Homo sapiens: one gene and its partner. The protein of the gene in region 1 purifies or fractionates together with the protein of each later gene. This does not show direct contact. Each region holds a gene or a part of one and is shown on either strand. Other genes may lie near its edges.

Region 1 (3,500 bases):
CTGGACTCAAGCAATTAGCCTGCCTTGGCCTCCCAAAGGGCTGGGATTACAGGTGTGAGCCTTTGTGCCCAGCCAGGCTGCAACAATTTGAACAGGACAAAGCCCCAGCTGTCTCTACTGAGATACGCAGACCCCAAACAGGGAATTTCCAGGGGTACAGGAATTAGGAAAAGTTGAGTCCATGGCATACAGCTAGGCATACATCCAGGTGAGCTCACCATGTCTAGGGATCAGGAAAGGCTCTCGTGGGGTGTGATGTGTAAGCTGAGATCCAGAAGAAAGGGTAGAAACAAGCCACATAAAAAACGGGAGGGGAGAGGCACCCAGACAGGGGCTAACTTGTTAAATATGGCTCTGGGGGGACAGAGTAGTAGGTTCAAGAAAATTAAAATGGCTGGATGTGGTAGCTCATGCCTGTAATCCCAGCACTTTGGGAGGATTGCTTGGGCCCAGGTGTCGAGACGATAGTGAGAGACCCTGTCTCTACTACTACTACTAATAATTTTAAAAGCCTGGGCAATGTGGTGAAGCTGTTTTTAGAAAAATTAGCCAGGCATGGTGGCATGCACCTGTAGTCCCAGCTACTTGGGAGGCTGAGGTAGGAGCATTGCTTGAGCCCAGGAGGTCGAGGCTACAAGTGAGCTGTGATTGTGCAAGTGTACTCTAGCCTGGGTGAAAAAGTGAGACCCTGTCTCAAAAATAAAATAAAATAAAATAAATTAGCTGGTCATGGTGGTGCAGGCATGTATAGTCCCAGCTACTCAGGAGGCTGAGGTGGGAAGATCACTCAAGCCCAGGAAGTCGGGGCTGCAGTGAGTTATAATCATGCCACTGTACTCCAACCTGGGTGACAGAGTGAGACCCTGTCTCAAAAAAAAAAAAAAAAAAAAAGAGAAGAAAAAAGAAAAATTATTAGTAGGGCCTCTGAGTGTAAGAGACCAGGGGACAAGAGCTCAGGAGAAAACTGGAGGGGTGGGGAAAAAAGACAAAAAAGACAAAAAAAAAAAAAAAAAACCTGGAGAAGGGGGCAGGAGCAAACCCCAGGAAACCTTCACAATAACTCATGGACCTGGAAAAAGCAAGCCTCAAGGACTCCAAGTGGGGGCGTGGCATGATCAGAACTGCTTTAAACAATCGCTCCAGGAGAAAATCAAAGAAGGGGCAAGAGGGGACTAGATTTACACATGATTTACACACATATATGATTTATACACATATGCCACATATGCATAGACCGCCTCTCAAAGGTGCCTGCAAACTCAGTAAAGTGGCCGAGCAGGGTAGCTCACACCCGTAATCTCAGCACTTAGGGAGGCAGAGGCAGGAGGATCAATTGAGCCCAGGAGTTTGAGACCAGCCTGGGCAACACAGTGAGACCCCATTCCCCACAAAAAAGGAAAAGCAATCGGTAAAGTGAACACCTCAAAGGACGGGCCTAGAAGGCTGAGGGATGAGGAGCTGGGTGGGAGGGAAACTCGCTTTCATGGCATGCCCTTGTAGACTCTTCAGATTGTTTACCATGTGCAGGTATTTCCAGCTAGAAAGAGTTTAATTAAATGATCACTCCGGCTAACATATAGCAAGTGGACTACAGGAACAGGCAAGAGTATGTATAAGTTTCAGAAAACTATATGGAAAAGGCTTCATGACATGTCTCTAAGGGAAAGAAAACTAAAGTGCCACTGTACATTTTAATTTACACGCTCAGAAAAAAGGCTGGAGAATTACCCATTAGTCCTAAAGTGATGACAGGTGAGCAAGGGAATTACAAATGATTTTAACTGTCTTCTCTCTGATTTCCTGTTTTCCCCATGTTTTCTACATGAACATGTTATAACTTTAAAAATAAGGAAACGACATTTTTGGAAGGGGGAACGGGCCCACCTTATGCAGACTGGTCATGCCGTCGTCATCCACCACCCTGGGGTTGGACCCATGTGATAGCAGGAGCCGCGCGATTTCAGTGTGCCCGCAGTAGCTGGCTCGGTGCAGAGCAGTGGCACCCCCGTGGGTCTGGGCATCACACTTAGCTCCGCTTTCCAGCAGGAACTGGCACACAGCGTAGTGCCCATTGCGGCTGGCATAGTGCTGCAGGGAACAGAGACCGAGGTCAGATGGGAGAAGCCAGGCAGGTGACAAGGGTGGTATAGAGGTGAGAGCATGGCCTCCCTGCAGCGAGGGGCCTGGAATCATCTCAGGTGCCAACCCCAGCAGTCGTGTGACCTGGGCAAGCTTCTGCGTGACTAACCTGAGTTTGTTCAATTGAAAAATGGGGAAAATGATCATTCCTATCTCAAAGAATTGTTACGAAAATAAAACTAAATCATTGGCTGGGCGCAGTGGCTCATGCCTGTAATCCCAGCACTTTGGGAGGCCGAGGCAGGCGGATCACCTGAAGTCAGGAGTTCGAGACCAGCCTGGTCAACATGGTGAAAACCCATCTCTACTAAAAATACAAAAATTAGCTGGGTGTGGTGGCACATGCCTGTAGTCTCAGCTACTCAGGAGGCTGAGGCAGGAGAATCGCTTGAACCTGGGAGGCGGAGGTTGCAGTGAGCTGAGATCGCATCACTGCACTCCAGCCTGGGTAACAGAGCAAGACTTCATCTCAAAACAAAACAAAACCTAAATTATTGATGTAAAGGTCTCACACTAATTTAAAAAATCCAGGTTCATATGATGCTTAAAAAGAGAAATTTTGCTGGAAGAGAAGAAAGGGAGGGAGGAGGTAAAAGGTAACCATCAGTCCCCCTCCTCAGAGAGCAGGTGTCTCCTGAGTTAACGCTTCTGTCTCCTGACCCTGTGCTCCTCCCTAGCTCACCAGCGCAGTGTAGCCGGCCGAGTCGGGCTGACTTGGGTCCTCGGCCTTCTGGATTAAATGCTTCACTCGGCCCAGGTCTCCATTCAGGGCTGCCGACCAGATTCCTGCAGAAAGGCAACCAAAGGACTGAATGATGCTGAATGGGAGTTTCAGTGCTTGCTTTGCCTCTTGACCTCAGTTTTCTTGTCTATAAAGTGAAGAATATTCATTCCTTCAACAAATATCAACCGAGCACCTCCTCTGTGTCAAGGTTTGTTCTGAATGCTGGTGACTTAGCTGTGAACAAGACAGATGGGCACATCTCATCAGGACAGTAGGACTGGGCGGACACAGACATCTCCATCCCACTTCAAACACAGAAGTGCTGGATGAAGTAATGTTTAAAATGTTTGGATCTAGAGTGAAATTCAGGTCGGGCTGGGATTACAGGCGCCCACCACCATGCCCAGCAAATTTTTCTATTTTTAGTAGAGACAGGGTTTCACCATGTTGGTCAGGCTGGCCTTGAACTCCTGACCTCAAGTGATCCATTTGCCTTGGCCTCCCAAAGTGCTGGGATTACAGGCGTGAGCCACCGTGCCCAGCCAGAAACAACTTTTAAAAAATATAATGATGCCTCCAGAAGGCTGCCAAGGCAGTGTGACAATCTCCCACAGAAGAGGATCTCCCTGGTGAGCAC
Region 2 (3,500 bases), on another chromosome or scaffold:
CAATTCTAATTTTGGGGATGTGAAGCACAGCAGCAAGAACTTCAGAGAACTATAACAATACTAAAGTCTTTACCAGCATGCCATTTATCCATCTTCTGGCGATGATAGAGTCCAGTCCACATACAATAATATGAAATTCTACAAAAAAAAAAAAAAGCAACTTTAGTTTTTAAATATGTAGTTGCATGATGATCTTTCAATGTAGATTCATCAACTGCAACAAATGTACCACTCTGGTGCAAGATGTTGATTAGGAAGGTAGTGTGTTTGTGGGAACAGGAAGCTCTATGAGAACCCAAGTTTTCAAAAATTTTCTGTTCAATTTTGTTGTGAACATAAAACTGCCCTAAAAAATAAAGTTTACTAATTAAAAAAAAAAAGCACTTGCAGAAAACAATTTGCACGTTCTAAGAAACCAACAAAAAAACCACAAGCACTTTTTACTGTAATCCCACATACGTTCTCAGAGCTCCAATTCCTTGAGTGAACTCTCATTCAGGTAAGCATAGAAACTTGTAGCTGGTCATGTCAGCTAAAACTAGCATTCTCTTTTCAGTCTATCAGCAACATTACTGAAAAGCCAACAGTGAGAGAGGAAAGCAAGTGAAGAAATAGCCTTGAAATAGCTAGCAATATTTGAATAGCTACCAACTAAAAAATTCTAAGAATCTAGTGAGCATTAATTTCAAGTAAAAAACTTACGTCGATAGAAAGTGTCGTTAAAATCTTGAATCTTGTTGAAATGTCTGAATACAAGTAAAGGAACTTAAGCAGCTAAGTTTTAATTTCTAAAATGAATTTGACAATGCCATAAGGAACACACTCTGCATATATTTACAACAAGAAATAAGTAATCAATGTTCACATCAGTGGAATTCAAGGAATCTGACTAAATGAACACAACTCTCCTTTCTGACAAAACTTTTCTGCCATTCCTCCCCTAACTACTTACTTTTTCTCATTCCTGAACCCCTATATCATTATATTTATGCCCTTGGTAGGAGGTATACTTTCTACTTTGCTTTGGTTTTTATATAAAACCATAAGCCCCAGGAAAGCAGAATGTGTGTCCTCAATCATCAGCATCAAGAAGAGATGCAATAAATGTTTTAGTGAAGGAAAGATGCACATTATAGTTCCTATTTTGCTAGGTGATTTTAAGAGTTACTGCAAAGCTCATTTTTTTAACATACAGAAAATTTCAACAGCTTTTTCAGTTGGTAAAGATTTTACTGTTTTTATTTTTTGTGGGGAGGAGAAAAAGTACGAATTTTTTCTACCTTTCTCATTTAACTCAGTTTTCAAGTTACCCTACCAAATCCTATTACCAGTCTTCCCATCCCTGGAGGCTAAAAAGGAAACTCCATTCAAAACTGATTGTGGGTGAGTCAATATAGCACTTAATGTTTTAATAGCACATGTGTGCAAAAACTTGTTTTAATTTTTCTAATGAATGGAGCAATTGTTTAATAATTTATAAATTATGCAACTTCTCTAAAGTTAAGATAAATAGTCCACTATAAATTTTTTAAAAGCAATACAGAGAAAAAAGGGACAATACATAGAAAAAAGGGACAATACATGCTTCCTCTAGATTTTTAATTCTTGCCTACAAATAAAGCTATGAACAATAATTTCAATTCTAGCCCTCAGTCATTCAGACCTCTATTCCCTTTGAATGCTAGGCAAGCAGGAGAACGAAGCTACAGCTAGAAAGAGGTCAAAAAAGAAACAAAGCAAACAGTGGAGGAATGGCAATCAGGGAACCAAGAGCCAGACTAAGAAATCTAATCTGGATTTCTAGAAAATACCCAAAGTTTCCCAGACCCACATAATGGGGATAGACAAACTGAGTGCCCCCCACTAACCAACCCACCCCCACCAACTCTTCCTTTTTCCCTACAGGGGCCTGTATTTGCATTTTTAAGCTCTTTATTTTGAAATAATATAGATTCGCAGTAAGTTGCACAGATAGTATAGGTAGGTACCATGCACCTTTCCCAGTTACATCTTACTATAGTACAGTACCAAAACCATGAACAGAACATTGGTACAATGTGTGTTTATAATTCTGTCATTTAAACACACATAGATTTGTGTAACCACCACCCCAGGCAACACACATAACTATTCGACCACAATAAAGATCTCTCTGCAGCCTCCACATCCTGGGCTTAACTGATCTTCCTGCCTCAGCCTCCCACATAGCTGGGACTACAGGCATGTGCCACCATGCCCGGGTAATTTTTCTAGTTTTTACAGAAATAGGGTCTCATTTGTTGCCTAGGCTGTTCTCAAACAACCAGGCTCAAGTGATCTTCCCGCCTCAGCCTCCCAAAGTGCTGGAATTACAGGCCTGAACCACCACACCCAGCCATCTCTATAATTCTGTAATTTCAAGAGTATTATATAAACAGAATCATGCAGTATATGACCTTTTGAGACTGGCTTTTTTTTTTTAGTCTAATAGTTGTGTAACAGTATCGCTCATGGTGGTCTTAGTTTGATGTGAAACATCTTTTCATGTGCTTTTCGTCATCCTTTTTAGTAAAATATCTCTTCCTATCTTTTGTCTATTTTCTAATTGAATTTTTTTTTGTTTTACTGTTGAGTTTTTAGAGTTCATTATATACTCTAGATATGAGTCCTCCATCAGATGCTTTACAAGTATTTTCTCCAGTCTGTGGCTTTTCTTCATCCGTTTAAGAGGGTCTTTCACACAGCAAGTTTTTAATTTTGATGAAGTTCAGTGTATCAATTTTTTCCTTTTATGGCTCATGCTTTTACAAAAAATTATTTTAATTTTTTAGAGATGATGTCTCACTACATTGCCCAGGCTGGAATGCAGTGGCTATTCACAGTATGACCACAGCCTACTATAGCTTCAAACTCCTAGTCTCAAGCAATCCTCCCACCTTAGCCTCCCAAGCAGCCAGGACTCTGTAGTGGTATGATAAAAGCTCACTGCTTCCTCAGTGATCTGCACCACCATACCCCACCTTTTACAGGTCTTGCTTTTGACGTGGCCTAAGCACTCTCCACCAAACCCTAAAGTTCTATCGTTTTATGGTTTTTTGTGTTTTTTTTTGTTTTTTTGAGATGGAGCCTTGCTCTGTCGCCCAGGCTGGGGTGCAGTAGCGCAATTTCAGCTCACTGCAACCTCAGCCTCCTAGGGTCAAGCGATTCTCCCACCTCAGCCTCCTGAGTAGCTGGGAGCCACTGTGCCCGGCTAATTTTTGTATTCTTAGTAGAGACGGGGTTTCACCATGTTGGCCAGGCTGGTCTCGAACTCCTGACCTCAAGTGATCCACCCACCTCGGCCTCCCAAAGTGCTGGGATTACAGGCATGAGCCACCACGCCTGGCTCATTTTATATTTTATATTTACACCTATAATCCATTTTGAGTTAATTTTGTATGTTTAGGTCAAAATTCATCTTTTAACTATGGATATGAAATTGCTCCAGTACGATTTGTTGAAGACTATGCTTCTTCCATTGG

The links. Proteins that work in one complex are often made in the same cells at the same time.
Region 2: the proteins of ANKRD39 (region 1) and UBA3 purify together in Homo sapiens (affinity purification with mass spectrometry; one large-scale study listed by BioGRID and IntAct). This does not show direct contact.

Annotation. Positions count from the first base shown.
Region 1 is NC_000002.12:96,851,517-96,855,016, forward strand, and holds part of ANKRD39 (ankyrin repeat domain-containing protein 39), read right to left. Parts: intron 2,926-3,500; coding exon 2,822-2,925; intron 2,089-2,821; coding exon 1,885-2,088; intron 1-1,884.
Region 2 is NC_000003.12:69,063,366-69,066,865, forward strand, and holds part of UBA3 (NEDD8-activating enzyme E1 catalytic subunit), read right to left. Parts: intron 747-3,500; coding exon 703-746; intron 139-702; coding exon 74-138; intron 1-73. UniProt on the Homo sapiens protein: Catalytic subunit of the dimeric UBA3-NAE1 E1 enzyme. E1 activates NEDD8 by first adenylating its C-terminal glycine residue with ATP, thereafter linking this residue to the side chain of the catalytic cysteine, yielding a NEDD8-UBA3 thioester and free AMP.